2 separate regions of the Homo sapiens genome follow, and region 1 is linked to region 2. Evidence: fine-mapped expression QTL. A gene starts in region 2. The other region holds a variant in brackets. All regions are shown on one strand. Distances are from middle to middle.

Region 1 (16,090 bases), 57 kb after region 2:
TTAGCATTATATTCTTAAATATTTTTTAATGAAGACTATAAAACTTCTCATTTATTCAAATATTTATTTAGTACTTATGTGTAAGGTGCCATGAGGACACTAAGATACCAAGATACGATCCTTATCCTCAAGGAATTTAGAATCTTTGGTGGAGGATATAAGATCAAGCTCTGACATTATTCAGTTAATTTCTTAATAGCACTTACCACAATGTTGTACAATGACTATGTTTATTTTTTTAACTACCATTTATTACACACTTATGTACCAGGAGCTACTCTTGGCACTCTGGTATGAAGATAGAGAAATAGATCAGTTGAATGATACTAAATTAAACTCTTATAACAACACCATAAGGTAGGAATTTTTATCTGCTGCAATGAGGACACTGGAGCACAGAGATTAATTTATTCAAGATCGCACAGCTGACTGGAGTCCATCAGTACTATGCCACCTCTCGTTTCTTTTTCTCCTTTATTGTCTGTCGCCCCCAGTTGAGATGCAGGCTCCATGAGAACAAGGACCAAGTCTACATTCGCCTGGCTACCTACTCCCTTCTAGCACAACGCCTGGCATAAATACTTAGTGGATTAAATAATATATAAATGACAATAAAATAGACTTTGATGTCGTTAAGCAACAGAGAACTAATGCTTAGGGCTGAGAAAACAAAAATGAATAATATAAACCTCAAAGCAGTCTCAGTTGTGCAGAGTTTCTTCAGTCCCAGGCCTCTTAAAAATGGTGCTGCTCCTGCCAAGAAGCTACTTGATCTGGGTTGACTGAAGAAACAAAGAATGGTGAAATTATACCTTGGCACCTTTACTCACGGATTTTTCCTTTCTTTTTTTTTATTTTTTATTTTTATTTTATTTTTTTTTTTTTGAGACAGAGCCTCTCTCTGTTGCACAGGCAGGAGTACAATAGCGTGATCTCCACCCACTGTAACCTCCGCCTCCTGGATTCAAGCAATTCTCCTGCCTCAGCCTCCCAGGTAGCTGGGATTACAGGCGCCCACCACTATGCCCGGCTAATTTTTTGTATTTTTAGTAGAGATGGTTTCACCATGTTGGCCAGGCTGGTCTCGAACTCCTGACCTCAGATGATCCACCCATCTTGGCCTCCCAAAGCGCTGAGATTACAGGCTATTTGTCTTCAACAAACCAATCTAAAATCACTTATTTCCTACTCCTCCATAAGCCACATAGCACTTGTTATTATGGCTATCCTCATTCAGAACCCTTAAACCTTATAATTGCTCATGGAATTATAATTGCTCACCACCGTGCCCAGCCTCGTGGATTTTTTAAGTCGCAGTGAATCCTTCTCAGATCTAATGGAAGTCCTTCATTGCAGAGCCTTTTCACCTGCCTGCCCCCACTGCATTATCCAACACACACAGACCTGTAGTATGAGCCAGGTGAACTAACAGGAAAACGGAGCACAGGGAAGCACTGCTTATCAGACAGGAGCCCTGGGGCATTCTCCTAAGACGTGTGCTGGTAAAGGAGTATGCACTGGAGACCTTACACCTTGAGACAGGCTGAACTACAAGGAGGGATGTGACCCCATCCAAGTTATCTGTTACCTGGCTTTGATTTGAACCACCAATCTTGACAAGGTGCCTAGCGACATGGTGGTTAGCACTGAGTGTATATTAGGGGTTTGTGGATGAAGACTGTCAGGCCATCCTTCCTTCTTGAGCCCTTTAACTTTTTGCCTTGCCTTCTTTTATTTCGTTTGCATGTGTTGTTGGGCCAGTTCCTCCTTGACCTCTGTTTTGTCATCTATACAGTGAATTTGTTTCATTGCTAGAAAGTCTTTTCAGATCCTCTCCACTGTTTGGTAATAATACCCCCAATACTGCTTTCGAAATCCTCTACAGGCCCAAGTCTTTATTCATTTTGGCAACATTCTTTACCCTTCAAGCTCTTTCGTAATTGAACGAGGTATGTGAGTAGCTTGGATGAGTTAGTAGGAAAGGTTGAAATTAATTTTAGCTAAAAGGAAAATGGCAGGTCTGTGTACAGATCAACCAAATCCATCCAGCTAGGCCAACTGAAATAGAGATGTGTTTCCAGCTGTAAAGGCTTAGTCAGAGCAACATTGATCCATGCAGACCTCAGAAGCAAAATGCAAAGGAACGTACTGGTGACTCAGCACTTCCCTGCAGTCTTAGCTGTAAAAGCAGGAATTGATGCTGCTCTGACTGAGGCGCAGGTGATTACATCAGAATTGGAATGCCTAAGCCCTCTTGAAGTCCCTGAAAATTCAGTCTGCCATAGATACAGCAGTAGGACTTAGGATCTGAAATGATAGGATTGCACTCTAGTCCTTAAATCCATAGTTTTAGTACAACACAGAATTTGTTAAGCAACGTAGTCTTTCTTTTAAATTCTCTTTCAGGTTTTTCATATGAAAAAGATCCCCGATTATACTTTGACGACACTTGTGTTGTGCCTGAGAGACTGGAAGGTAAGTAGCCCCATCCAAGGTTTGTTGCCAGGTAGAGGTTTGGAGGTGTCAGAACACCTCAGCCATGACTCTCTTCCCAAGTCCAGTGATTAAATCAGCATGAACAACTCCTTTTTGTCCCAACCACCTGAGAAACTTAGGACTAAGCTATTGTGTGATGTGTCCTTGTCCCAAACAGGCAAAGTCAAACAGGAGCCTACCATGTATCGAGAGGGGCCCCCTTACCAGAGGCGAGGTTCCCTTCAGCTGTGGCAGTTCCTGGTCACCCTTCTTGATGACCCAGCCAATGCCCACTTCATTGCCTGGACAGGTCGAGGCATGGAGTTCAAGCTGATAGAACCGGAAGAGGTATGCACTGGATGCTGGACTCAGACGGGTTTTGATTTGTTGTTGTTGATGATGTTTTTTGTTTAGATTTCCATTGAGGCTTTTTGTGTCAAGTCTGCTCTTGCTTCTCATTCATATTCTGGCCTGGCCAGTGGGCTTGGCTGTATCCCTCCTATTAATGGGACAGTTTCTAATACATGGACAGGCAGAGTTCTCCAGTGTAGAATACATGAAAAGTATTTGTAACACTTCTGCAAAATTTAGGGGGCAAGATCATGAAGACTTATATTCAAATAGGATATGCTCTCCCTCTTGGAAAGTCTTTTTCAGGTGCTGTTTCAATGATACAGACTTGTTTTGGTCTTAGCCCCTGTGGGCCATAGTCTATCTCTGAGTCTACGTGAACATACTGTATGACATTTTGACAATATATTACAGGATACAACTACCCACTGTGTATTTCAAATGGCTGTAGCCTGGAGAAATAAAATTATCAGAGGTGGCTCAATCTTAATGAGCTTAGATTTTTTTTTTCAAAGGTGTGTTATGGCCGGGTGCAGTGGCTCACACCTGTAATCCCAACATTTTGGGAGGCTGAAGCAGGTGTATTGCTTGACCCCAGGATTTTGAGACCAGCCTGGGTAACATGGCAAAACCTTATCTCTACAAAAAATAAAAGAAAATAAAAATAATAAAAAATTAGCTAGGCATGGTGGTGTGTGTCTATAGTCCCAAATACTTGGGAGACTGAGGCAGGGAGGATCGATTGAGCCTGGGTGACAGAGCGAGACCCTGTGTCCAAAAAAATAAAATGAAAGTGTGTTATGTGACATCACAATAGAGTAGTTGAGAGATGATACAAACCTCAGTTATTTTAATAGGAAAAAAACACTGTTACTGTTTTTGTGCCCAGAACAGAAATACACTGTTGACAGAACCAGTGCCGTTTCTTCAGTGGAGAAGACACACCCTAGAATCCCTTTCCTGAATATCACATAACAAAGTAAATTAAATCAGGCTCTCAGTATAGCATATTCTAAAGGGGTTGATTTTTAATTTCTGTTTGATTTAGAATCTAGAGAGATTATAAATGGAACAGAAATAACTGCCCAAAAAAACTGACATACGCTTCTTTTAGTAGCATGTTCTTAGGCATATAAATTAAACCAGCAGATCAAAAGGCATCTTTGGGTTGGGTATAATTAAATTGGGAACAACACTCTTAGACACTCTTAGAAAGCATTTGAACGAGAATTGCTGTTTTCAGTGTTCAGTTAACTCTAGGGCTCGCTTTAGCACACCAGAGAAATACGCTGGCATGGGGTTAACAGGAGGAGGTAGCAACCGGGGACTTGGTTTGGAACAAGAAAGTGGTCTAAAGATTCAAATGGGAAAAGGAGGAGAATGTGTGGATTAGAAATTTATGAAGAATCCTGATTGATAGGAGAAGAAGGCAGACTTCATTCAAGGCAATTAGAAAACAAGATGTGCCTATGTGTTCCCTGTTTTATATTCACTCACGAGAATGGAAATGTGTCAGCATCTCTAGATGGACTAATTAAACAGCTTCTATTCGGTTCAGTCTACCTTCAGAGCTGGAGTTGAGTGCCACTGTGTTAGTTTAGTGCCTACGTGTTTTTTTCTGGCCATGTAGAAATAGAGCCATGTTTTAGGCTTCTAGCATCCCTGCAGAGCCATCCACCCCACGCCGACCCATGCCTCTCCTCACTGCTTTCTGAATAACGTGGCCTGGTTTATGTGAAGTTTGAGAAAAGCATGTCACCTAGGTTCACTGAGGCTTTCTGAAAGTAGTTCTGTCATGTGGGCAGCCCTTATTGATTTATCTTGTTTCACAAACAGGAGCTTTTATTATTTTATTGCCACTGCCTCGGGCCTAAGCACAGGCCGTCCAGCTGCAGGTAAACCTGGTTATGATCCTTCGTAAAGCTGTTATTGAATCTTCTGCACTCCTACCAGTGGCATAGAGAATGATGAACAGATGGCAAAGGGCCCCTGCTTTCTTACTTAATAAAGAAACTAATATTAATACAGAATGCTCGTAAATGCCAGGCAGCCAAGTCATATGAGAAGCCTGTGGTGTCCTTGAGCCTCCCTCGGTTGACCGGGCAGCTTTGTTTCTTCAGGAAATGGTGCTTTCCACCCCACCTTGAAGTCCCCAAGCTTTCCCTAAGCTCCAAATGTTCCTTTCTCTTCACCCAGGATCAGTTGGGTGCCACATGTGCACGTTAGCCTCAGGACAGGTGACATTTGCTGAGCTCCCCCCACCCCTCCTTGTATACCTGTGAGGGCCCTGTTCTTGTTAATGTCAGGAAGATACCAGCTTCTGGAAAAAGCTGTAAGAAGTCGTCATGGGGGAGCTTGAAGGGTGAAGCGGAGGAGGAAGCTGTTGGGACGTAATTGTAGGCAGCTGTGTGGCTGAGTAGTGCACTCTGGGTAATTATCCATAATATCCATTACACTGTGCATGGAAATTGTGGTTTTAGAACTGCGTTTTGGCAGGCCCCCTAATCAAATGTCTTTTGATAGTCATCCAGCTTAGCACCCTCTCAATTATGACTGACTCGGCTTTAATCTGGAGCCATTTTAACTGTGAATCTGCATTAATGAATATTTTGGGGGGTAGGGTTGTTTGTTGAACATGTGGCAGATAACTGCTGCTGGGAGGTTTGAAGGGATGGGCTGCTAGAAAGAGCCACTCCCTGGGCTGTGGCTGCTCTCTCTTTAAAGGGGAGAAGGAATAGGTAGATCCGTTAACTCCTTCAGCCTCAGTCCTCAAGATACGTGCTACCAAAGTAACTAATGAGAGAGAAGAAAGATCTGATGACAAGCTATTGCCTGCCTCCCCAGTCCCAGAAGAGGGGCAGCCCTAATTCCCAGCTGCTCTGGAGCTGAGCCGCCTCATGCATTACTGTAGAAGGAACAGCCGTGGTGAGGGCTACAGAATCACAGGGCTCTGGCCCGGGAGGATGAGTCAGTAACTATGGCTACCAGAGCTGCTTTGAAATCTGTGCGTATACCAAACCTTTCTCCAGTAAGCAATTGCATATGCAAGTGACAGCTGAGAGGTGGCCGCTGAAGTTGAAGAATATTCAAGGATTGTTTTCCACCCCTTAACATAGTAAAATGATGAGGCTGGGCTTCTCTGAAATTTCCCTGTGTCACTTGTGGCAGACAGCAATTAAAGATTAGTTTTATAAGGCATCATTGCTTTGAACAGGGTACAATGATGTATATTATTAGGTTAGCAGATGTCTCTTCTTACCATTATTTCTATTGGTTTTAAATGTTTATCTTCTCTAACCAGGATGTAATTTTTGGTTAATTTTGCCTTTTGGGCTGTTTCAAAGGTAGAGTAGAGTGGGTACCATATGGAGAAAAGAGGAGACCCAGGACATCGTGTCTGCTGTGGGGACATGAAGCAACTGAACGGAAATTGGACTTTCACAGGGTTTCTTGCAAGGCAGAGCAGAATCATTGCTATTATTGTAATTAAGAGAGATGCATTCTTATCAGATCATTTTTGGCTTTTATGAAAGGTCATTTTAGAATCCTGAATTTAGAAGATGTTGCTTTCATTCTGCCTAGATATTTTAAGGAAAAGGTTTATGTGAAATGCTGTTTTCTCTCTGATTCCTACTCCATGTTTAACATTTGGCTTTTAAAATATCGAAGGGGCCGGGTGCAGTGGCTCATGCCTATAATCCCAGCACTTCGGGAGGCTGAGGCAGGTGGGTCACTTGAGGTCAGGAGTTTGTGACCAGCCTGGCCAACATGGTGAAACCCTATCTCTACTAAAAATACAAAAATTAGTTGGGCATGACAATGGACACCTGTAATCCCAGCTGCTCAGGAGACTGAGGCAGGAGAATCGCTTGAGCCTGGGAGGCAGAGGTTGCAGTGAGCCATGATCGTGCCACTGCACTCCAGCCTGGGCAACAGAGTGAGACTCCATCTCAGAAAATAAAAATAAAATAATCGAAGGAATATAGTTTGTTTTTTTTTTTTAAGTTTCCAAAACTGACCTAAAATGCTCCAAACGTGACCCCTGACCCCTGGTTTGCATACATTTGAAAACCTCTGAGTAAAACTCACATTTCCAGGGTTATTCT[A/G]CTACCTTGACAGTCATTCTCATAAGTAGGATTTTGGAAGCTGATATACTTGAGAACAGAAATTGCTTGGCTGCCGTGATAATTGGGTAAACTCTACTAGGAAGTTTTCCTGCTAGAAGGCTGCTTTGCCCAGAGCTCCAATTATATTGCCCTATCAGTGTGCCTCAGGTGGACTGGGTTGGATATAATGCATTTCAGAACTGTTTGGAAAGCCCTGTTAATTTTTCATTAAGTGGATAATGGTGCTACATGCTTTCATGTCCATTCTGCAAGTCTGCTGGGAGCATGGGATTGGATGGCAGCAGGCTGAAATGATCTGATTCCCCCTTAGTCCATGAGCTGCAATAAGTAAACATCTCCCAGCCCCCCTCCAATCTTATTAGAATTGAACTTTTGCTCTGCTGGCCCATTAGCAACTCACTAGTGTGTTTCTAATGTTTCAGGAATGACCATTCTAATTATTCCTTATTGACTGCTACAGAAACCATAGCACTTAATGGCAACACGTTAATGGTCTATGGGTATTGGTCAATAATTCATACGTGGAGAAATAGTAGAGGGCCTGCATCCTCTGGGATGTTAGCCAAGCCCTCTGCAATCTTAAAGTGCTAGGATTCTTCCATCTCTAGGTCTCACCTCCTAGTAGTTGTCACTGAATCATCGCCTTTGTTGAATGTTTGGTCTTGAGGGAGTTAAATGCCTTCCCTTCCAGGTCAGAGTAGCAGATCATTGACCAAAGCAGTCAGGTTACAGAACTGGCTCTGCTGGGATTGGGAGAGAACATGGGGCCCAGGGAATGCGTTTCCATTGCTCTTCACTTTCCTGTCTCTTCAGGTTGCTCGGCGCTGGGGCATCCAGAAGAACCGGCCAGCCATGAACTATGACAAGCTGAGCCGCTCTCTCCGCTATTACTATGAAAAGGGCATCATGCAGAAGGTGAGCCATTATACAAGACCCTTAGCCCACTCTGGTCTCTTTTAAGGAAAAAGTCCAGGGCTTCTGTAGTGAGACTGGTGATCGTCGCTACGAGGAAATTTTAGCCCCCTAAGTGATTCTGTGGTAGGAAACAATCTTGAGAAGACAAACTTGAGACAAGAATCAAATGAGATATAGAGTACATTTGATGCTGTTGGTTATGTGGAAACTAGAAGTTGCATGCAGAACACACAATAGAAAATTAGGCTTCTCTGCTTTCCCAAAACTGCTTCTATATATAGAAATTTCCAGAAACTTAGGCCAACTGTTGTATCCAAAAAGGACTACAGGGAATCAACTTGAAGGTCTCTACTTCAACAGCTTGATTGAAGTCTTTAGTTATTAAAACACCTAGACCTCCAAATCTGTTAGTTTGATATGCTCAGAAGTGTTAGAGGAATAAGAGCATCTGATTTTTCTTTCAGACTTACAGAAACTGGAACTCAAGTTAAAAACCCAACGTTTGTAGAATGGCAGCAGAGTCACCTGGTAGCAGGTTGCTCTTTGTGGAATAGAGGATGAAGCATATTTTGAAGAAATCAGTACAAAATTCTTCGTGGGATAGGTAGCAAGGGGCCACAGTCTTAACATCCCATGGATAAGTAGAAGATGGGAATGGCAAGTCTTTCTTAGCTACCAAATTCGTAATGTACTGTTGCCCAGATACTAGCATTTACACATTGAGCCAGTCTACCTGGCAGTAGCCAATAAGATGAACGTGGCAGAAGCATATGGGCAAAACTGCTGAGAACTTGTCTACAAGAAGCCAGATTCATCTTTCTCATAGGCGGGTGGTAATGTGACCCCATATTCTCCTCGCCACCTTAAAAAATACTCAACAGCTCATTGTGATTTTCTGGATAAACTCTAGACTTGCTAGTGCGTCATACAGGCTCTGAGGCTGTTCCCAGTCTGGTCACCACCTAACTCTCGTTTCTTCACTCAAACTTGACGGCTTTCACTAGCATAGCCACCTTTTAATGTAATGTAGTATTTGTTTGCCAAAGAATACATGTTACATGCATGTACATTATCAAGCATACCATAAAATGGAAGACACCTATTAAACTGTCATCCTACTTAAGACCTAGAACATTCCTAATGCTCTCAGTACCTGGCCAGCCCCTCCTTGTTTTCTGTCACCTTTCCATTTCAGATTGGGTTAGGTGGTCCCCTTTGCTGCTTCTGATGGCACCAGTACTTGTTCCTACCACTGCTCTTCTCGCTGTGTCTTAACTCCTTTCTTGTTACTACCCCCCACTGGAGTGTAAGCTCCTTTGGGTTAGGAATTGAGGTTTAACTTCAGTGCTTGATACAGAGTTAAATGCTGTAGGATAGGTGGTCCCCTACCTTACCTCTCCTTTTTTTAAAGTATACGGTCCAGTGGTTTCACAGAGCTGTACAACCATTACCACAATTAATTTCAGAACATTTTATCACCCCAAAAAGAAACGCCATACCCATCAGCAGCCACTCCCCATTGTCCTCTATCCTCCTTAGAGTTGATATCATCAGGCCAAATCCTAAGTTCAGGTGGGAGAGCCATTATTCCTTTGCTGTTCCCAACTCCACATCCAGCATGGGGAGATGCAACCCAGGACACAGTAACTTGAACCAATGGAAATGAGCTGTCCTTATGACTAGCTTCTGTGTTTTCTAAGGGAGTAGAAGAGAACTTTATTTCTGAGAATAAGTAGGCAAAGAGTACAGGAAGGCCCAGGAATGAGGCTTCGTGGGCTCAGATCCTAACACTTCAATTTGTTAGCTGTATGATTTGAGGAAAGTCACCTAATCTCCCAAAGCCTCTATTTCTAATAAAAATATAGATAATAATTCTTGCTTTAATCCCACAGGGTAATATATTTGAAAATATTTCAGAAATAATAATGTGCCATCCAGTGTAAGGAAGGGGTTATTATTTTATTTGTTACATGACTCACGAGTACATGAGAGCTCATTAAAAGGTGAATGATAGCCCGTCGGTGTGTAGAGAGACTTAGAAAAGCTGTAGTCCCATGCCCTCCATTTTTGAAGGGAAAATTGAGGTTCACAGAGGTTAAGACTCATTAGTGACTAAACCAGGACTGGAAGCCGTGCAACTCCCAGCTTCTGATCTAGGATTATTTCCACTGTGCTCTCCTGCCTCACTCTCCCACACAAACTAATTTTTGGGGTTGGGCTTTAAGGTAAAACCAGCGTACAACACTAACTAGAGGTGGTTGATTGGTAGAGATGTGGAAGCAGAGCCATACTTGTTCAATTAAAAAAAGATTTTAGAATCACAGCAGAATGACTGAAGGGCAGGATTAAACTCAACAGTTTGCATTTTTAAATCTAAAATGTTTATCTTATCAGTAAATTTGGCTGCCTTCCCTTCCCCCTCTGCGTCTCCAGACAGAAGCCGATTATTGGGTTTGATTTTCGGTATTAGGTGCCTCTTGTACTATTGCTGAACAACCAGCAGAGAGAAGGTGATCCCATTGACGCAGATGTCTCATCAGCCACATACCATGAGGTCCTTGAACAACCAAGACCTTCTGGTTCTAATATTATAATGCAGAAAACCCATAGAAAGGTAGTTAGCGGTTCCCTCAGTGTAGCAGAGCCATGCGGTGAGTCATTTAAAGCTGCAGGTAAGCCAAAAGCAATTCTTTTCAGCTTTGGAACATACTTAAGGCTTCTGCGCAGGCTCGCTCTCATCAGATTTCTAACCTTTCTAAATAACAAGGCCATACTGTGAAGACTGTAAACTCTGGAAGTGACTAAAAATGTGGTCAGGCTTCTGCCTTGCACCTGTCAGTCCTTAAACCTTTTTGGAACACCAGACTCCAGGCTCAGCATAACCATGCTTTCAAAGCTGTCACTGGAAGACAGAAAGTGAAGATTTTCTTTTAAGAGTCCATCTAGTGTGAATTCGAAATTCAGATATCTTCTTTTTTAACTGCTGTAGTGTCAGTAAAACACTTGGCAGATAATAGGTTCCCAGGAGTTCTCAAAATAAGTCTGAGTGATTGGGGTAATCGGCTGCTCCTTTGGTCCCTGGCTTTGTGACTTAGGAATACCTCGTTCTCTTCCCCTGATCCCATGCCCTGTTCCAACTGGGCCCTGTAAGGTGTGTGTTCTCCCGCAGGTGGCTGGAGAGCGATACGTCTACAAATTTGTCTGTGACCCAGATGCCCTCTTCTCCATGGCTTTCCCGGATAACCAGCGTCCGTTCCTGAAGGCAGAGTCCGAGTGCCACCTCAGCGAGGAGGACACCCTGCCGCTGACCCACTTTGAAGACAGCCCCGCTTACCTCCTGGACATGGACCGCTGCAGCAGCCTCCCCTATGCCGAAGGCTTTGCTTACTAAGTTTCTGAGTGGCGGAGTGGCCAAACCCTAGAGCTAGCAGTTCCCATTCAGGCAAACAAGGGCAGTGGTTTTGTTTGTGTTTTTGGTTGTTCCTAAAGCTTGCCCTTTGAGTATTATCTGGAGAACCCAAGCTGTCTCTGGATTGGCACCCTTAAAGACAGATACATTGGCTGGGGAGTGGGAACAGGGAGGGGCAGAAAACCACCAAAAGGCCAGTGCCTCAACTCTTGATTCTGATGAGGTTTCTGGGAAGAGATCAAAATGGAGTCTCCTTACCATGGACAATACATGCAAAGCAATATCTTGTTCAGGTTAGTACCCGCAAAACGGGACATAGTATGTGACAATCTGCATCGATCATGGACTACTAAATGCCTTTACATAGAAGGGCTCTGATTTGCACAATTTGTTGAAAAATCACAAACCCATAGAAAAGTAAGTAGGCTAAGTTGGGGAGGCTCAAACCATTAAGGGTTAAAAATACATCTTAAACATTGGAAAGCTCTTCTAGCTGAATCTGAAATATTACCCCTTGTCTAGAAAAAGGGGGGCAGTCAGAACAGCTGTTCCCCACTCCGTGGTTCTCAAAATCATAAACCATGGCTACTCTTGGGAACCACCCGGCCATGTGGTCGCCAAGTAGAGCAAGCCCCCTTTCTCTTCCCAATCACGTGGCTGAGTGTGGATGACTTTTATTTTAGGAGAAGGGCGATTAACACTTTTGACAGTATTTTGTTTTGCCCTGATTTGGGGGATTGTTTTGTTTTGGTGGTTGTTTTGGAAAAACAGTTTATAAACTGATTTTTGTAGTTTTGGTATTTAAAGCAAAAAAACGAAAAACAAAAAACAAAAACAAACCTTTTGGTAACTGTGCACTGTGTCCTTTAGCCAGGGCCGTGCCAACTTATGAAGACACTGCAGCTTGAGAGGGGCTTTGCTGAGGCTTCCCCTTGGCCATGTGAAAGCCCGCCTTGTTGCCTGCTTTGTGCTTTCTGCACCAGACAACCTGATGGAACATTTGCACCTGAGTTGTACATTTTTGAAGTGTGCAGGGCAGCCTGGACACAAGCTTAGATTCTCTATGTATAGTTCCCCGTGTTCACTAACATGCCCTCTCTGGAAAGCATATGTATATAACATGTGTCATGTCCTTTGGAAACCTGGTCACCTGGTGAAAACCCTTGGGATTCTTCCCTGGGCATGACTGATGACAATTTCCATTTCATCAGTTTGTTTTGTTTTCCTTTTTCTTTAAATCTTGGACTTTAAACCCTACCTGTGTGATTCAGTAGGGTTTGAGACTTACGTGTGATACTGACAGGTAAGCAACAGTGCTAGCATTCTAGATTCCTGCCTTTTTTTAAAAAGAAATTATTCTCATTGCTGTATTATATTGGAAAAGTTTTAAACAACCAAGCTAAAGCTATGTGAAAGTTGAGCTCAAAGTAGAGGAAAAGTTACTGGTGGTACCTTGCTGCCTGCTCTGCTGGTAGAATTCTGTGCTCCCCGTGACACTTAGTACATTAAGAATGACTACACTGTTCCTCGTATGTGAAGGAGGCAGTGCTGACTCCGTGAGTGTGAGACACGTGCTTTGAACTGCTTTTCTATTCATGGAGCACTCCATAGTCTCAAACTGTCCCCCTTATGACCAACAGCACATTTGTGAAGAGGTTCGCAGGGATAAGGGGTGCACTTTATAGCTATGGAAACATGAGATTCTCCTCTATTGGAAGCTAATTAGCCCACAAAGGTGGTAAACCTGTAGATTGGGCCTTAATTAGCATTGTACTCTAATCAAAGGACTCTTTCTAAACCATATTTATAGCTTTCTTAACCTACACATAGTCTATACATAGATGCATATTTTACCCCCAGCTGGCTAGAGATTTATTTGTTGTAAATGCTGTATAGATTTGGTTTTCCTTTCTTTACTTACCCTGGTTTGGATTTTTTTTTTTTTTCTTTTGAATGGATTTATGCTGTCTTAGCAATATGACAATAATCCTCTGTAGCTTGAGCTACCCCTCCCCTGCTGTAACTTACGTGACCTGTGCTGTCACTGGGCATAGGACAGCGGCATCACGGTTGCATTCCCATTGGACTCATGCACCTCCCGGATGGTTTTTGTTTTTTTCGGGGGTTCTTTGGGGTTTGTTTGTTTGCTTCTTTTCCAGAGTGTGGAAAGTCTACAGTGCAGAAAGGCTTGAACCTGCCAGCTGATTTGAAATACTTTCCCCTGCGCAGGGCCGTATGCATCCTGCCAAGCTGCGTTATATTCTGTACTGTGTACAATAAAGAAGTTTGCTTTTCGTTTACCAAGCACCCGAACCTGCCTCTTTCTTGCCCTCATTGGTCTAATTTTAAAGCAGGCAAAAGCCCCCTGGCTTTCTCTCCGCCCCCGCCCTAGCCCTCTCAACAATTTAGCCTTACCAATGGACAGTGGCATCGAGGGTAGTTAGGGAACTCTGTTACCTGGAAATAGATGTGCACAGCTCCTCTTAAACTCCAGCTAAAAATTTAATCCAAAGAGGTGGAAAGTCGAGAGATCCTCTTCCCAGCCAATGGTGAGCTGAGATCACCTCATCCCCTTGAGCCCACCAAGCCACCAATTCTTAGTAACTCTTTTTTTAAGTGTAGCCCATGTTTCGCTTTGGGTTGTGTGAAAAGATTACAAAGCAGTCTAGGACTTTCGAGTCCCAGAATTATCCTCAGCCCCTTATGTGGATACTTTGAAAACCAGTAAGAACTTAAGACCATTCATTTTCTAATTTTTCCCCAATAAGTTTTGCTCTTGACAAGTGAAAAATCAATTAATGGTTGATAAATAACGAAAAAAGCTCAGGAAGGTTTTGCCCACTATGTTTTTTTCTGGCCGTGCAGCAGTAAAAACCTCCTCCTCCAAGTTTGTCTCTTTCTCGTGAATATGTATCACTCGGGAAATACGTGGAAGGAAATAAAGTTCGCCGGGTTGTATTGCGGTGTTATTACGGTTATTACGGTTTCTAGTGCTCTTATTTCACCCTTTTTCTGCACCTCTAATTTGGCCTTCTCAAGACTCCTATTACAGTGGAGAAATAAAGTAGAGCCTTTTTTCAAGCCTAGAACAGAAGGCTTTCTGTCAGTTTATCTGCTATCTTTCTTTACTGTTTTACAAGCCTCTAAGTGTAGAAACATCGAGACTGAATGAGTGCACCGCCTCTTGAATTGGAGCTTGTGAGGAATGAATGTCTGCCACATAAACCCCATTAGCTTCGACAGATTAAGAAAAGATGCTTGGGGAGAAGGGGCAAGGGTGCGCAGGAAAAAGCCGTCTCTGCCTCTCAGCTTCACCATGATAAGGCTTTAACAATCCGCTCCCCATTATTCACGGGCTCGTTATCCAGCCTGGGCCCGGACCCAGATCGTTAACCTAACGCAGGAGGTCACCAAACACTGCCGCCCTTCTAGTGTTGGGCGCTAGGATAAGGAAGCTCAGAGAATGGGAAGTTTACTCTGCATCAGGGTCCCCTTTCATGAGCCAAGCCAGGGAAACAATGCGTATTCAGTTGTTAGATGACAAAGAGGTAGTGTGAGCGCAGAAGAATGTGGTTTTGAGAGCCAGAGTATGTGCAGAATCTAAATTCTAATGCAGCTGGGACAAATGTAAACTAATGTGGAAGAAAAACACTAATGTACCCAGACGGTTGGAAACTTTGGAGAGACCGTTCATTGCCCAGCGGTGCAGGTGGCTGCTACTCAATGTGTGGCCTCTGAAATACAAGAGAAAGGAAAAAAGTCCAGAAGATCATCAGTTTAATACAAATGCATAGTGTAAGTATTGTTTAGTACAAATACATAGTGTAAGTATTCTATTCAACATAAGTGTATTGTACTTAAAATAGGGGGAGGGTGTGAGGGTGGTACCAGGCGAGCGGCTATGTCCTTTTGATCCCGGCAAGTACACTGGTGTCCCATTCAGAAGGGGCCCTTTGAATGACCAGCCTTAGCTCCTCCAACTTTAAGAGCTGGCTCTACACCCAAGCCTGGGTTTGTTGACCTTGGCAGTGAACCTCAGGTAACCTTTGGGTAGCACTTTACACAGCACTTTTTCATCTCCATTATCTTTTTGGCAGGCTTTCTGAAATGGTAATACTGTTGAAATTGAGTCTGAAAATACCATGGCTGTTAGCCTCCAAAATTAATTTCTTTTTTGGAATTTTCACAGTGGCTACTGTGGAAAGAGGACTAGTCCCTTGGAGCCTAGACATTTGGGTTCTGGCCCCAGGTCAGTGGTTGATTGGGTTTAACTAAATGGTCTCAGGGGACCATCTGGCCTAACCTCCTAGGTTCATTGAGGGCACTGATGAAGTACTACTCCCCGATCTCATAGGCAGTAAGGGAGAAAGAAAGGAGTTTCCTAGGGGAGTCAAGGAATGTGTGTGCGTGTGTAGGAGAGTTAACAGTTAAGAACATCATTCTCAAGTCACCATTTTTAAGCAAGCTCTGAAGATGGCTCAGTTCCACCATTAATGGCACATTTCTTCTTTTTCAATCATCCACTGAGCACCTGCTAGGTGCCAGGCACTGCTGGATGCTAAACATAAATGATTTAGGTGGCATTTTCAAGCTAAAGCCCTGTTTGTGGTATAGTAATTGTGTGACAACCTCTTACATGTTTAAGTGCTATACTTTCCAGGTAATACTTAAACACCACTGACACCATCTTATCCAGACTATGTTGACCAGAAGCTGGGGAGGCTGGGGCATTTATCCTCCAACTCCTGCCCTTATTGGTTGAAGGTTATCCCCAGAGATGTTAACTCTTCAATATATATCCTATCAGGAAGAG
Region 2 (16,090 bases):
CATGCAAAACAGGCCCAAATTGAGGCGCCTGAACATTCCCTTACATCAAGCTGATAATCCCTCTTGAGAGTTGGATGCCGAACTTCCAGCCTCCTAGAAATAAATACAGGTCAACGTGGAGATGGGAGTGAAACTGTGCCCCCTGATCATTTCATGAGCGCTAGTGTCTTGTACCCAAGTAGAGCCTTAGGGCAGGAAGGAACAGACAGAGAACCTGGATGCCTTCAGGGCTCTCCTGGGATGGGATGCTGTTCTCATATTTTAAATCTTTAGGCATATAGCTTGGCCTCTTGATAGGAGAGAAGGCAGAGAAGGGAGAGGAGCGGGGATGAGAAGAGGTTTTCAGATGGGTCTGGTTTAAATTGAGGCTGCCTCCTGCCCCAGAGCCAACAGGCAGGCAAGATAGACTATTAGCAAGAAACATGATGGGGAGAGGAGGGAAGAGGATGTGTACTTCTTTTTAAACACTCACTGTGGTTATTTGGTTTGACATGGCCATGAGTGGGAAGATGCCTCAGGCTAAAAGGGCAGACTGGACCCCGCATTTGAAGCCAAGCGATCAAATCCACTGACAGGACATTTGTTCTGGGGGCTCAATTGTCAGTTGGCCATGGTTGATCTTCCCTTTGTCCAACTCAAAATAAATACAGCCCACTCCACAGGCCCAGCAGAGCCTCAGCGGAGGTGGGCGTCTACAGACCAAGCCAAGAGCTGAAAGAACCGCCCGCCTTACCACCCGCTCTCCAGCTGCCACATTGAAGCAGGCCTATGAAGAAGCCCCGCTCCAGCCCTGCCAGCCCCTTAGTCTCTTCCAGTGGAGCTGCGGGAGAGGCTGAAGCAAGGCCTTTCGTAGCTCGAGACGGGCAAGTTCTGAGTCAGCCTGCTCCTGCTGTAGGAGCTGAAGTCCAAGGAGGGCACAGAAGGGGTTAACCCCTGGTCACATAAAACTCACCACCATGGGCATAAAAGGAAGCAAAAAGAGGACTCTGAGCGGTCAAAATAGATTTTGCCAAGTCTACACATCCAAGTTTGTCCACTTCCTCATTGGAGGGGATGCTTTTGCTGCTACTCAGAACCTCTGGGCTCTTTCTCTATGCCCATTGCAAACACACTTGGTTTGCTGGTTTCCACGCCTATGGCAGATCAGAGTCAGAAAATTACAACAGATGTGAGGGGCTAGAGAAGCATGTGCTGAATGCATCGTGATGTTCTGATTAACAACCTGACATTGAAAAGGGGGCAGGAAAACTCGGAAGATCCAACACAGGATCCACCAAAAGTCCAGTAGCCCGAGGCTCTTTCATGGGAGACAGGCAGTCCCCCAGATTTCTCAGGGGTAGGGAAGGATGCAGGCGTGTGTCTGGCTCTAGGAGCTCTTCCCTGCATGGTGAGATGAAAGGACTCAGGAGGCTTGGGAGAGATTGCAGGGTCGCATGGCTGCTGTGCAGATTCTGCTGCAGAGCTGGACTCAGTTTTGAAGTCAAGGAGAAGCCATGGGAAGTTTCCTAAGATTTCCATCTTCTTTCTTTTTTTTTTTTTTTTTTGAGATGGAGTCTCGATCTGTCTCCCAGGCTGGAGTGCAGTGGTGTGATCTCGGCTCACTGCAACCTCCGCCTCCCAGGTTCAAGTGATTCTCCTGCCTCAGCCTCCTGAGTAGCTGGGATTACAGGCACACGCCATCATGTCTGGCCAATTTTTGTATTTTTAGTAGAGATGGGGTTTCACCATGTTGGCCAGGCTGGTCTCAAACTCCTGACCTCAAGTGATCGGCCTGCCTCAGCCTTCCAAAGTGCTGGGATTACAGGCGTGAGCCAACACGCCGGGCTAGTTGTTTCTTTTTAAAGTTGTGGGCTTAAGAAATAAACCTGTCAGCCATCAGAAATCTAAATAGGACATGCTCTTCCAGGTTTTCTTGATAGTGGCTGTTTCATAAGAATTGAAAGTCAGCAGGAGACAGGAGAAAGGATGTCTTCGAGCTCAGTCAAGAACCAGGAGAGGAATAAGGTCCCCCAGACTGGCTGGATCAGAGGCTCAAGAACATGCATTCTGTGTTCTGTCAGAGATCTGACTTGCTCCTTTCTAACTGAGGAAACTCAGACATGGTTTTAAACCTCTCACTTTGAAACTCAGTTTTCATATCAGCAAATTGGGTATTATTACCACTTCTAAAGAGAGATTGGGCGTATTAAATGAAACACTGTAGTATGTAAAGTGTCTAGCACAGAGCCTGGCATATTGGAGATGCTCAGTAAACATCATTTCCCTTCTTTTTCTAAAGTGGCTTTCATGAAGACAAATCCTTGCCAGCCCAGGACAATAATTCAGAAGTCTGGCTGGAGTTGCTGAAGCAGGTTCCTAAGGAAGCACAGCAGCTCTCACTGGCATGGCAAGCAAGCAGCCAAAGCCCTGAGAACAAGGTGAGGGGCAAGATGACAAAGTGAGAGACTGCAGGAACTAAGACGACAGAGCAGAGTGAATAAGAGCAAGGACTCTGTTCAAGATCTACATTAGGTGCCTGACTCCAACTCTTACTAGCTGTGTGACCTTGGGCAAGTTACCTAACCTCTCTGTCTCACTTTCCTCATCTATAAAACGGGGAGAATAATGATATCTGTATCACAGGGTTATTAGGATGATCAAGTGGGTTAATATAAGCAAAGCCCCTAAACAGAGTCTAGCACAGGGAAGTGTTCTTGCAGTGCTGGCCGCTGTCATTAAGCACACACAGCTTCCACAGGGCAGCAGAGTGGCTCCTGGGCAGATCCTAGGGGAGCAGGCTCTGTTGCTTGGGCACACTCCCTTTTTTACTATGTGCTAGCTATGTGGCCTGGAGCAATAGATTGAACCTTTCTGTACCTAAGCTTTCTCATCTATGAAAAGTGGAGATAATGATAATAGTACCTCCCTCAGAGGGCTGTTGTTGGGACTAACTGTGCCAAGTCATGTGGAGTGTTTAGCAAAGTGTCTGGCTCATATTAAGTACTCAGTAAATGTCAGCTTTTACTATTCCCCGGCTGGAAGGAACCCTAAAAACAATATGCCCCCTATTTTTTAAAGAGACATTGAAGCTAACAGATGTTCTTTTCTCCCTTAAGTTTTTAGGGCCTTTATTTCTGAATTTTAGAAAGGAAGATAGGATTCTTTATCTCTCCCTTAAATAAAAACACATTTCAGTACCTTTTTTTTTTTTTTTTGAAACGAAATCTCACTCTGTCTCCCAGGCTGGAGTGCAGTGGCATGACCTCAGCTCACTGCGACCTCCATCTCCCAAGTTCAAGCGATTCTTCTGCCTCAGTCTTCCAAGTAGCTGGGATTACAGATATGCACCACCACGCCCAGCCAATTTTTGTATTTTTAGTAGAGACGGGGGTTTCACCATGTTGGCCAGGCTGGTCTTGAAATCCTGACCTCAGGTGATCCACCTACTTGGGCCTCCCAAAGTGCTGGGATTACAGGTGTGAGTCACCACGCGTGGCCAACATTTCAGTACCTTTTTTACCCTTTCCTCAAATCCCTTCCTTCCCCCCATACAAGAATAGGAAAGGACTCCAGGAGCACTGTAGCCCACATCCCAAACCCTAGGCAGGTCTACACTCACCCCGGCATTTCTAACAGAGAAAGAGGAGGGATTTTCCCAGTATGAGAAACCAGGATCATGATGCTTCCATATTTCCCACGATCATTTTGGTGATCAGCTCAAGACAGGGTTGCCTGCCTTATACGGTAACTTGCTTTTGGCATTTTAGGGGAAAATTCTAAAAGCAGTTCTCTAAAGGGTAACAGTTCTCAGGCTTGGGGCAAGGTACTTTCTTTTCTATTCTTCTACACTGTTCCCCTCTAGACACACTGCAAATTGAGTTTAAAGAACAAGGGTCTAGTTATCGTGCTGTGATTGAGTTTTGCTACTGCCAGAGGACAAAGGCTAGATTGACATTAGATGAATGTGCCAGAGGACTGGTCTCTCTTTTTGTTTTCTTTTCCAATCCTGTTTCTCTCCTGGAGGAGAGGGAATGATAATTAGAACACATGCTTGTTCGACAAAACCTCCCATGTAAGTAATGTTCCTAGGAGGGAAGCCTCAACGTAATAGACAAAGAACTTCTAAATACTACCTTTAACTCTTATAAAGGCAAAGATAACAAAAGAAGAGGAGCCGGGGAGGTAAATCATAAAGAGAAGAAGGAAGAAGAGTGGAGAGAAGATATCAGTAAATATTTAAAAATGAGGAGCCCACCCTGGGCCCAGGAGCTGGCTCAGGTCATCGCAGGCTGTACTCTGACTTTTAATGCTGCAGCCAAGATGGCTGTGCCAAGAGCTGTACCCCTTGTCCAGCACAAACCTCCAAATTCCCAGAATCAGAGACTCTGAGAGATGGAACAATCCTCAGAGTTCTTCTATCCTGGAAAATGCATTAGTCCCTCTACCCTATCCCTAAATCTTTCTGCATAAATGCCTCCTGTGATGGAAGACTCAGGGCCAGATACAATCTTCCTTTGCTGGACCACTCCAAACATCCCAGAGTCCTTCCTAACCCTATTTGGAGCTAAAATCTGCCTCCTTTGACTTTGGCCAGCTCTGTCCTTTACCACTCTGGGTTGAAATGATGTTTCCCGGTAGTCGCTGAACAAGAGAGGCAGATGCTAGGTCTCCCATATATGGGCTCTGGGATGTGACCACCTTGGCTCCTATCCAAGTTCAGCAACTGACTTTCAAGCTCTGTGACCATTGGCAAACTACTTAATCTCTGTGTCTCAGTTTCTCAACTATATATTATAGAATGGAGACATTAATAGCCTGACCACTTTGGTACTATTATTATGAGGATTAAATGAGATAATCTGTGAAGAATTATATATGGCATGAACAAGTCATATATAAAGTGCTGAGTAAACTTCAGATACTGAAGTTACACAGCAGACTGTGGGCTCCTCCAACGCAAAGACTGGGTCTTATTCATCTCTGCAACTTTTTTGCCTAGCACGAAGTCTGGCTGAATATTTGGTACAAAATACATGTTTACTGGATAACTAAATAATCGCAATAATTAATTGGCAATTATTCTGGTGTAATCCCCTGCACATGATCGCGTGTTCAAGACAAGCATTTTTGAAAAAAAATCTATCGCCCAATCCTCCCCTGCCCCCACCTGAGCCACTATTTGTTACTACTCAACCCAGAACTATCCTACTTCTCTTTTCAAAGTGGAATGGAGAGACTTGGCTTGAGGCAAAGGTCACAAGAGCCAAACTCCAGGCATCAGGTCCAACCCTGTGAGGAAGTTGCTGTGAAGCGTGCGGCACTGTTTTCCTGTAGCCAAAGTTATAAAGTGTGATTGATGTGTTACGGTTTAGATGGTGAGGATATGTGGCTCTGTGGGCTGTAAGCCTTCCGGAGGGCTGGGGCCTGAGAGACTTAAGGGAAGAGGAGTAAGAAAGCTCCTTTGGAAAAATGAGTTTAGAGAGCAGGATGTCATGGGATGGGATGGGGAGGAGCGGGAGTGGGGGTAGACAAAATTGGGGAGGAGGAGGATCTGGGAGCTTACCTGGGCCCTTCATCTAGCTAGGGAGATAGAGCTCTCAGGAATGTCAGCAATAAGCTCAGAGCACAACTGTACTAGTGTAAGATCTCCAGCCACCAAACAGAAACGGTACCACCTGGAGAAAGAAAAAGGGCACTAAGGGAAAACTGGAGTCGGAAGCAAAATGTTCTACCAGGAAACTAGATCTCAAGGAACTGCTTGTTACATGTTCAGAGTACTTTCCATCCATCAACTCATGCCCATTTCAGTCTTCCAAAGTCAACAGCTCCAGCGTGCCTGGTCAGTGCTGAGCCCAGGACTCAACACGGGTGCTGCAGGTTGCTTAGGGGCACGCCAACATTTCAAGGGCTATAAACGACAGACCAAGTGTCCGCTCTGTTTAAGAGACACAAGTGGAGATAGGAAAGAACCTTTGACTTAAGTGTGGGGGTGGCAGGGGCAGGAACTGCCCCAGAGTTGGCCACCGTGGGACCCCCATTGCTAGGGGCTCTCTCCTGTCACTTAGCATCTTTCCTCCCCACCGCTGGCACGCGGCGTGAATGGCAGGGCACTCCAGCAGGACGAGAACAGAGCTCCGTCACAGGCCCCCAGCATCCCCGGAGAGAAGATAGAGCCGCCCCACGGCCTTCACAGGAGGGGGTAAGGGGGCGGAGAGGGGAGAGGATTGTTTGTTTATTTGTTTCCTGGAACACCCTGTTAAGAATCTCAGCAATTGCAGTTAGTGCCCTATCGTTTGGCAAGCAGAGCCGCTTCTCGTCGTTCCCAGCTGCACGGGATCTAATTCGCAAATACACCATCTTGCATTCAATACTTAAATGGAAAACAAGCAGCCCGGGGAGGGAGGCAAAAAGTCTGAGTCTGCATGCCCGTTTCGGAGGGATTTAGGTTTCCAGGTCGGTGGACTGGCTGCTGCTGTCCCCGGAGAGGATTTCTTTGAGCCCGAACCCTGTCTCACCTCGACTACAGAACCCACTCTGGCGGAGGTTACGAGCCGCAGTTAAAGAGAAAACGGGATTTGGTTGGGTCTTAGGCCTTGCCAGTACAAAATAGTAACAAAAATCTGTTTGAGAGCTGAGATTTTAAAAGGAGATGCTGCTTATTCTTCCCACTGGAAACCTGGTTAAAAGAAATTAAGGCCTCTCTTAAAGGTAACTAAGATTAGAGGGCTCGGTTTCCGTTTTCTGTGTTTCTGTGGGCTAAACGCCCAGGTCGGTCAGCGAGTTTGTGTGGAATGACGAATTCCTCTCCCCTGAATTCTAAAATGATAACTTTGCTTGGTGCTGCAGCTGCGAACGTCTGGCGCCAAGAGACCCAATTCTGGTCGGGGCTTTGCTGGATGGAGAAGTGGGGGTGAGTGGGTAAGGGGGAAGAGTCGTGCCTCGGTGAAAAGTCGGGAGAGCGGCGAGAAGGGAAGTAACGGCGGCTCCTCCTGGCCTCGGCCCCTTTAAGTGCTTCACTGACTCAGCTAAGCTTCCCCCTCAGGTCGCGTTTTTTATGAATGAAAAACGTCCTTACATTCATTATATAAACAAGCCTGTGCTGATTGGCCAATGGCCCCCGGTGCATAAATTATGTAAAACAGACCCCTGAGGGGGTGGAGAGAGATGCACCGCTGGCCAATGGGGGCCGGAGTTGATGGGGCGGCTTGGTTGGATTTGCCCGCAGACAGGGTAAACAAGAGGTGATGGACAGCCGCGGGAACGGCCTCTGGCCAATGGGAACAAGGCTGGGCTAGGGCCGCGGGCCAATGGCGGCGGGCGGAGCAGCGAGCCGCGGGGGGCCGGGCCAGCGCTCCAGCCTGGTTGGCAGCTGCGGCGCAGAGTCCAGCCGCTGGTGCGCGGAGCGGTTCACCGTCTTCGGAGCGGTTCGGCCCAGCCTTTCGCCCAGGCGCCCAGGCCCGCTGCGCGCGTGCGTGAGCGCGCCTGCGCCGCCGGGGCCGCTGCAAGGGGAGGAGAGAGGCCGCCTCAGGTGAGGGGGCTTTGCGGGGGCAGGGGGGAGATCGGAAGGGGCGTCCGGCCACTGGTCCGACAGGCCCAGCCGGCTAGAGTTCACGGGCTGATTCAGAATCTTCAAAGTCGGGGTGCAGTAGCTGGGGTGACCCCCCCCGGGTTGACCGCCCCCTCCCCCCGCGGCCCGGTCCGGTTTGGTTCCTGGGAGGCGTCGGGCGGGTGCGGCTAACGGTTCCGGAGCGCGGGGAGAGCGGCTTTCCACACGTCGTGGGGGAGGCGCCCCGGAGCGCGAGTGCGGGGGCTCCCGAGTGGATGGGGGATCGCGGAGTTGCGAGGCTTTCACAGTCTCTGGAGATTCGAGAGCCCCGAGGGGACTTGGAGGCTCGCGAGAAGAGACGCTTGGCGGAGCTCCGCAGTTGGGAGGAGGGGGCGGGAAGCAGTTTGAGGGGAATGTCTGAGAGGCGCTGCCCCCCAGAGCACCGGGAGGGGGTAAATGACACAGGCAAGTGCAGCCTGCGGGGGCGGGGGTCGACCAGGAACTTACGCAGGCCTTGCAAGTTTCAGGTGGTGGAAAGTGGACATCCAGTCGCCCTGCTCCCACCCAGCAGGCTGAGGGCGTCCGGCTGTGCGGCGACTCGAGAAAATCGGGGCGCACCGGAACAGCGGCCTGGGGATGGTGGGGATAACACGGGTGTGGAGGGGACAGCACCGAAAGATGCTGCAGCCTCGCAGCGGATTAGGGTTCCGGCCGCATTTTCAGAGGGTGGAGAAAACTCGGGGGGGAACCGAACTCCTGGTCGACGAGGGGGTGCCAGGGAGAGATGTTGGGGGTGGGGGGATTGGAAGCGGTTGGTAGCGCCGGGCGCCGCACCTCGTTTTTATGAATGTGGGTGACTTTATGAATGAAGCGGGTTTCTTTCGTTGGCTCGCTGCTCCCTGCGGCTTTTTTTTTTTTCTTCCCTTTTTGTGAATGAAGCATTGAGCTTTCTTCCTAAAACGCTGGGGTGAGGGGCCTGCGTCGGAGGCTGGGCGTGCGTTGGAAATGGGGGCGGGGGCGCAGCTGAAGGAGTTTTCATGAATGGGGAAGGCTGAGAATTGGGTGGAAGTGTGTCTTGTTTTGTGAATGGGGCCCAGCGCTAGAGATCCAGTTACAGCCTCTACCTGATGTGGCGGCCGCGGCTCGCTCTCCCATTCATAAAACCGGGCCCGCTGCGCGCCACAGGGGAGGGGCCTGGATCGCGCCGCTGCGCTGTGCTAAAGTTTTCCTGGGGGCGCCCGGGGCGCGGGTGGTGGGGGGGCAAAGGAAGTGGTTTAAACTCCTGGATGAACTCGAGCCTTTCCTTCAGGCTTTTAAAAAAATTATACTTGGAATACAATTTTTCTAACCCTGGAATGCCTCTTTTCCGTTCGTTTATGGCAGTTTATTTCTTTTAATTTTTTAGAATTTTTTTTGCTCTTCCGGGTGAAGTATTTCATCATGAGACTGAAAAATATCTCCCCCTCCCGTCTTCTACTGGTTGTCCCCTTCCTCCTAACACATTCACAAAATGTCTTAGGCCATGATTTAATCTGACAGATTTTCCTAAGCGACAGAGCACTCTCTCTTTCATGCCCCTCAACTCACTGCTGAGGTTTCTCAGATTTTGTATACGGTTTGGTGGCATTTGAGAGAGGCGTTATTCTGAACATTTCTTGTGGTGTTTGGACGGGGCACGCAGGCAGGCTGGCGCGAGTGTTTTTCTAGGAAGTTATGAACTGTGTGCTATTTTGCTCCTCTCTTTCCTTTGACTTTGAAAATATCTGATTCCTTGGGCCAAAGTGCTGCGGAGGATGCTGGCTGTGAAGGGTGTCCTTGTATCCTGCCCACTTATGAAAAATTTGATATGCTACACACAGTGTGAAAAACAAATTGGATGGAATTGCTCACCGGGGGAAAAGTTTCCTGTTTAAAATTGTGTATATGTCAAACAAAAGAAGTTGACCTTTAAGCATTTTGAATTGCTTAGAGCTGGAGTGAGTGAAATTAATGTTTTTCCACCTTTTGTTGACTTAACGGTGTTTTTATTTGAAGAATAAAAGTGTTTAGGAAGATGGTACCTCCCTGAAATTGTTACTTTATTCCACTCACGTTAGGAGAAGTTTTCTCCCTTCTAACCCCACCCTTTTTCCCCAGACTCACACACTTACCCGTCCTGAAATGAGTTTCATTTGGGGGTGGGGGGGTATGTCTAGAAAAAAATGATTCCGCTATATGAAACAGCCTAAGTTTTAAAAGACCTTTGGTAGAGATGCATTGTACCACATGCAATGGAATTAGTTTTTTTAATCCATTACTTTTCATAGACATTTTACTCTTTTAGAAGTTGGAGATGTCACAAATATCTCTGTAAGTAACCAGGGAGATATTTGTGACATTACAGATGCTATATCTGTTTAGTCCTCTTTTAAATAAAGAGTTGTGTGTGAAGATAAGTATACCTCTGATCAATTTATTCCAGGAACTATATATAGTGTTTTAACAGTGACCTACAAAATGCTTTTGGAAACACCATGTATGTCAGATCTTTAATTGCCAATAATTTGGAATACTTAAACCCAGTTTCTCTGCTTCCTGACACTGTACTGTCAAAAATTAAATTATCTCTTTTTTAAAAACCCTACTACAAATGCCCTGGAGTATATGAGAGAATCTTGAAATCACCCTTTTATTTTATTTTATTTATTTATTTTTGTTTTGGTAGAGAACAGACAGTAGCAAATCTGTAATTTTAATGATTTAAATAAGAAAGAAAAAATGATGACTGGGTAAATGGATTTGGCACGGAGTACATCCTGTACCTCTGATACCATTAATCAAGCCCGGCATTGGTGTGTAAAGCTTGCACCTTGAGTAGGTTTTAAGTACTTCACAGAAGGGTAATAATTTTGCACAGGCCCTAAAAAAAAGGCAGTCTAAAATTGTTTCATTTCTTTTTTTCCCCCCTCTTAGTTAAAATCTCCCAAATTCATATTACAGGAGGATCCCTTTTCCCCCAGAAATTACTCAATGCTGAAACCTCTCAAAGTGGTATTAGAGACGCTGAAAGCACCATGGACGGGTTTTATGATCAGCAAGTCCCTTTTATGGTCCCAGGGGTAAGTTTATGTGGCTTTTGGTTTGTTTTGTCCTCCCTCTCCAATATGAGTCTTCCCCCTGTGGACCTCTTTACTACACTTGAGCCTTCACTTTCTGTTGGCCTCTTTCAGAAATCTCGATCTGAGGAATGCAGAGGGCGGCCTGTGATTGACAGAAAGAGGAAGTTTTTGGACACAGATCTGGCTCACGATTCTGAAGGTAGTAAAGCTTTCCCTGATTATGTTGTGGCTTCCCTGCTCCCAGTGACAGTAGCGTGTAGATTCTTCCCTGTCTTCTCCCTAGCGAAAGAAATATCCTCATTCTGGGGTCTTCTTTTTCAATTTCAGAGCTATTTCAGGATCTCAGTCAACTTCAAGAGGCTTGGTTAGCTGAAGGCAAGTTTCATGGATGTCCTATTTTCCATATAAAACATTTTACTGTGCTTTTTAATAAAACTTAAAGGTCTAAAATAAAAATCTATTTTCCAGCACAAGTTCCTGATGATGAACAGTTTGTCCCAGATTTTCAGTCTGATAACCGTAAGTACCTTTCTGGTGATGGCACATTTGTTCTGAAATTGTTTGGTCTTAGATCATCCATGTCTAGAATATGCTTTTTTCAGCTATGGCCAGATTTAGACAGTAGTATGCATTTAGTTTCTTCTAATAATTCAGAATTAACCCTGAAAACTTTTATTTCATAATAAAATTATTTCTAAAGTATTTCTACTGTATTGCAGGTAAGATTTACTGAACATAATTTTATCCTAAATTTCTTTTTACCTTAAGAATATTGTAAAGCTGACTGGGCACAGTGGCTCACACCTATAATCCCAGGGCTTTGGGAGGCTGAGGCAGGTGGATCACTTGAGGTCAGGCATTCAAGACCAGCCTGGCCAATATGGTGAAACCCCGTCTCTACTAAAAATACAAAAATTAGCCAGGTGTGGTGGTGGGCGCCTGTAATCCAAGCTACTCAGGAGGCTGAGGCAGGAGAATCACTTAAATCCAGAAGGCGGAGGTTGCAGTGAGCTGAGATCGCATCACTGCACTCCAGCCTGGGCAACAGAGCAAGACTCCATCTCAAAAAAAAAAAAAAAAAGAATATTGCAAAGCTTTAAGCTCAAAATTATAAATTAACTGACAAAATATATTTGGTGTTAGGCCAAGCATCTATTAATCACACATTGTTTTATGGCTTTTTTGGGGTTTGTTTTATAAATTAAGTCCTTGATGTGAATCATGAACCTGATATTTCTCTTTTTCTTAAAGGTGCAGAAAATAGTTAATGGAAAACTCCAGTTAACTTTGGCTTCATCCAACATGTTGTCAATTTTGTCTCTACCCCTAAGCTGACAAGGGGTGGTCACAGAGTGGCCTGATTTACTCTTACTTTTCGTGTAGTTGCTGTGGCTTTTCTCTTCAGAGAAGAGAAACTTTTTCTTAAAATGGCCACTAAGTGCTCATTACTAGAGAGAAAATGCAGTGGGAAGCTCAAAAGATGGCTTTCAACACTGGCAGGGGCATGGTTACTTTGCACTGATCTTTTGGGGCTGTCCTCAACAGGTTTGGGAGCTTTTATGGTCTAGGCAGAGTTATGAAGGACAAAGCCGGCTGATGAAATTTGAGCAGCACAGGGCTGCTCTAGAGAGCATTAGTCACTGGCGAATGAGCAGGTTTAAGAGAGGCCTGGAGAAAATGCTGCCTCTCTTGAGAGTTGCATCATAGAGAAATTCATGTCTCTTAGTCATAGTTTATAATAGCAAGCACCTGAGCCATGCAAGGACTCAATTTCTCATTTTGGACCAACAGATTCTTCCCAGCTTTGTTTTATCTCTGGGTAGGTGGGTGTATGTGTGTAAAAATGCCACTGGAGAGAGAGTATCTTAGGTCTCTCTCTAAGTAAAAAGTTGGGTATTCCAAATCTTTTAAATGTAAGAGCAGAGGTAACAGCTAAACATTCCTTAATGATAGGCCTCATGTCCAAGGCACAATGCCATGAAACTGTAAAAGGGAATAAACTGGAACACACACATGCATGGTTACCTTAGCTTTGTCACAGCTTGCTGTGGATGTGTTCTATGGGAGAGTAAATGCATGTTAATTATTGCCCTTTGATTGCTTTCGAGTGATTGGGAAGCTTGCCACTGAAAGACTAAATAAAGATAATCCAAGTGTGTGTGTGTGTGTGTGTGTGTGTGTGTGTGTGTGTGTGTGTGTGTGTTTGCAAGATGAAAGACAGGGTTTGTAATCCAACTTTGTTCTGTGTTGACAATTTGGCCCAGCCTTTCCAGTTCTTGCTCAGAGCAGCATAAACTGCAGTCTGTTTGGGAGGTGGCTTTCTTGGCAGAGGTTCTTTGAAATGCTTTTATGACACTTTTGTTTGTTTCTCTGTAACCCAAAAGAGTTAAAAGGGAGATGAGATGGCTGCATTCAAATTGATTGCATGTGCTGAAGCAAGGGTATGTTCTTTGTCAGCAAGCAGGATTTATATTTGGAGAGATATTTATCTGTGGGAATAGGCTAAAGTGAAGAAATCAATAAATGTGTTTTGGCTCTTTAGAAATAATTTCTGCTCAGCAAATAGAATGTGCTAAGTTCTTTAATTAAAATTCCATACCTCAAGTGGAGGTAATTTGGGAGATGTTTCTGCTTACCAAGTATGATGTTTTTTTTACTTTGCTTACTTTTTGTTTTAACTGCCTAAGGTTGAGCCTTTCTGTCTTTTAAGGATAAAAGAGATGGTTGACTAGCCTAGAAAAGGTCTTCTAATGATTCTTTCCCTCTGACTTTATTTCTTGAGGTAGAGCTTCAAGAAGGGATAGATTCAAATAGAATAACTTGCTTAAGAAGCAAGGCAAGAACACAAATGTGGGTGGTGCATCTTTGAGCCATTCATTCTTGCAAAAGCAAGTTTGTTTGCCTGCAGTTCAGACCAACAGCCAGAAGCATGAGGAGGAGCTGGCAGAGCCCACAGCCGGCTGCATGCACTTACTTTTCCATGAGCGCTTTCCACAGCCTCGAGTTCAGGACCAGCTTCACTCCAGTCATTTTCTGGAAGAGCTCGTGATTTTTTTCAGGGGAGGGAAGAAAACTCATTCAAATTTAATGAAACCTTATGAGTTGGTTTGACTCACTTAACCAATGAATATAAGCCAAACTTAGATTTGCCAGGGGAAAGCAAACCTTTTTTTTTTTTTTTTTTTTTGGAGAGAGAGTTTTGCTCGTCACCCAGGCCAGAGTGCAATGGCGCAATCTCGGCCCACTTACTGGGATGTCCACGTCCCAGGTTCGAGCAATTCTCCTGCCTAAGCCTCCCGAGTAGCTGGGATTACAGGCACCTGCCACCATGCCTGGCTAATTTTTGTATTTTTAGTAGAGACGGGGCTTCACCATGTTTGCCAGGCTGGTCTTGAACTCCTGACCTCAGGTGATCCGCCCACCTTAGCCTCCCAGAGTGCTGGAATTACAGGCGTGAGCCACTGTGCCCGGCCTGTAACAAATATTCTTACCAGTGGCCACTGGTAATACACTTTCCTATTAATAATGATTTGATAATTTTCCATTGTATATGTGTAAATTTATTGTATACATGAAAGAAAGAGAAATACTAAGAAATGTAGGTAATATTTTTATTTTGGAATGTCAGTTTTAAAGATTATGGCTTTTTTTTTTCTCTAAACACTAAAAGTTCAACTTCTAAAGAGATTATATTTTGTAAGTTTCTTAGAATTGGGTTTCCTGCCCATAGGGATACATCCTTAAGTCTGATTTGAGTGAATGAAACCATTGCTTTTATATCTTATAGAAATGCCCAGCTTACTTCTAGCTGTACAGATTTCACCTCTACCTCACACATATAGATATCAGTAAAGCATGGAGACTCTGAAAGGTCAAATTCAAGGGAATAGAAATCTATAGATCATAGGGATTCTACCAGTGGACCTCATTGTCCCTTGGTCCTAAGAAGTAACTCTGAAGATCTCAGATTGCTTGAGTTGGATGTCCTTTGTAGAGACAAGCTTGCCCAGCCCCCTCCTTTCACAGCTATTCCCAAATAGCTGAAGAGACTGACCAGTAGTGGGGGCAGATGGGAAGGTTTAGGTGAAGTAAGAGGAAGATGTATAAAATAATATTCTTAAAGAAGCTCTCACAAAGCTGCAGAGCCAGGGAGTAGTGGCATATTCAAGTGTATTCAGGGTCTCCATTATTTCAGATACCTGGAGATGGTGTTCAGGAAAGCATCTGGGAGGCCTCTGGCTGTCCAATTCAGCACTCACTTCTCTTCCTTCTATGATCCTGAGAAAGTTACTCAATACCTTCATGCTTTGAGTTTTTCCATCTAGGATTTGGAAGACAGAGAGTAATTATAAAAGAAAAAAATTATAAAAAACTGACATATTTAGGCTCACACCTGTAACCTCAGTGCTTTAGGAGGCCAAGTCGGGAGGATCTCTTGAGCCTAGGAGTTCGAGGTTACAGTTGAAGCGAGTAGTGATCACACCACTGTACCCCAGCCTAGGTACCAGAGCAAGACCCTATCTCTAAAAAACGAAAACAAAAGAAAACTGCCATGTTTCCTAGAAGACACCTTTCGTGTGTATACAGATAAAACTGTGTACATATTTCCTATATATGAAAAAGTGTTTGTGCATGTGTATATATCTATGTAACTGTGTATGTAGCTAAATGTGTACCTTAACACATAGAGCGGCTAAACCAGGGAATCTGGGTCAGTGCATAGATGTATGTACATATTTACTACACATTTTCATAGAACTAACTATGCCATGGATAAGATTGGAACTCAAGAGTGTTTCAAAGTCGGGGTAAGGTGATGTGTTCCATTCATTTTTCTGAACTGACTGGGTACTTAAAGAGTGTGTTACTAGATTTTAGCATATATAAATAGCAGTTTTTTAAATATACATTTTGGGTCTGATTTTTAATCTCACTTATTAATTTCAGTTATGATATTATAAATATATACCTGTTAGCATCTTGAATAACTAAGATATTTTATGCTGAGTAGAGAGCATGATAAAAATCTTATTTCAAAGTCATGGCCTCCATACCAAATACAGCCTAGAGAATTGTTTTAAGATCCAAATGACCCCATTTTCCCCTTGAAGTGTTCTTTTTAGATCTGTGTTTCAAAGAGAATGGAACAACTGGAGGAAGTACAAGTAATTTCCTAAGGACCAGCTAATTAACTGATAAAATCGACTTTTCATAAATACATTGCAATAGACGGCTGGGGAAATAGGATTAACTGTTATGACAGCCCTTGAGCCTAAAACACATTGATCTTAATCCTGTTTCACGATGAGATTATTCAGCTGGATTTCTTTATTAATGTGTGAGTTTAGTACAGTAGAGGCAGTGCCTTTCCTTTGGAGAGGGTACATCATTTTGGTCTTTGGTCCTAGGTGTGGTGTAGCAAAACACCACGTTTTCTTGCTTGGGCCACCTCTATTCAAAAGGATCA

Which allele goes with the higher level. Alleles are on the strand shown, and positions count from the first base shown. SD is a standard deviation of normalised expression in the study named.
As copies of A replace G in region 1, the expression in monocytes after interferon gamma of the gene that starts at base 7,358 in region 2 goes down (large effect, 1.2 SD a copy in Fairfax 2014).

The links. PIP is the estimated chance that this variant, and not a neighbour inherited with it, causes the effect.
Region 1: its variant is fine-mapped to the expression of ETV5 in monocytes after interferon gamma (Fairfax 2014, PIP 0.95).

What each region holds. Positions count from the first base shown.
Region 1 is chr3:186,043,808-186,059,897 of GRCh38, reverse strand. It overlaps ETV5 (ETS variant transcription factor 5), which reads left to right. Exons shown (of 13, transcript NM_004454.3): 10 at 2,407-2,475; 11 at 2,654-2,823; 12 at 7,767-7,868; 13 at 11,038-13,584. The coding sequence ends at 11,259. Among named protein-coding and RNA genes, the nearest start is that of ETV5-AS1, 27 kb to the left of the region's middle. The variant A/G (reference allele first, on the strand shown) is at 6,933.
Region 2 is chr3:186,100,357-186,116,446 of GRCh38, reverse strand. ETV5 (ETS variant transcription factor 5) reads left to right here and starts at 7,358. Exons shown (of 13, transcript NM_004454.3): 1 at 7,358-7,507; 2 at 10,505-10,623; 3 at 10,735-10,822; 4 at 10,951-10,998; 5 at 11,092-11,142. The coding sequence starts at 10,579. RefSeq lists silencers at 7,046-7,675, 7,706-7,805 and enhancers at 6,839-7,817, 8,576-8,635.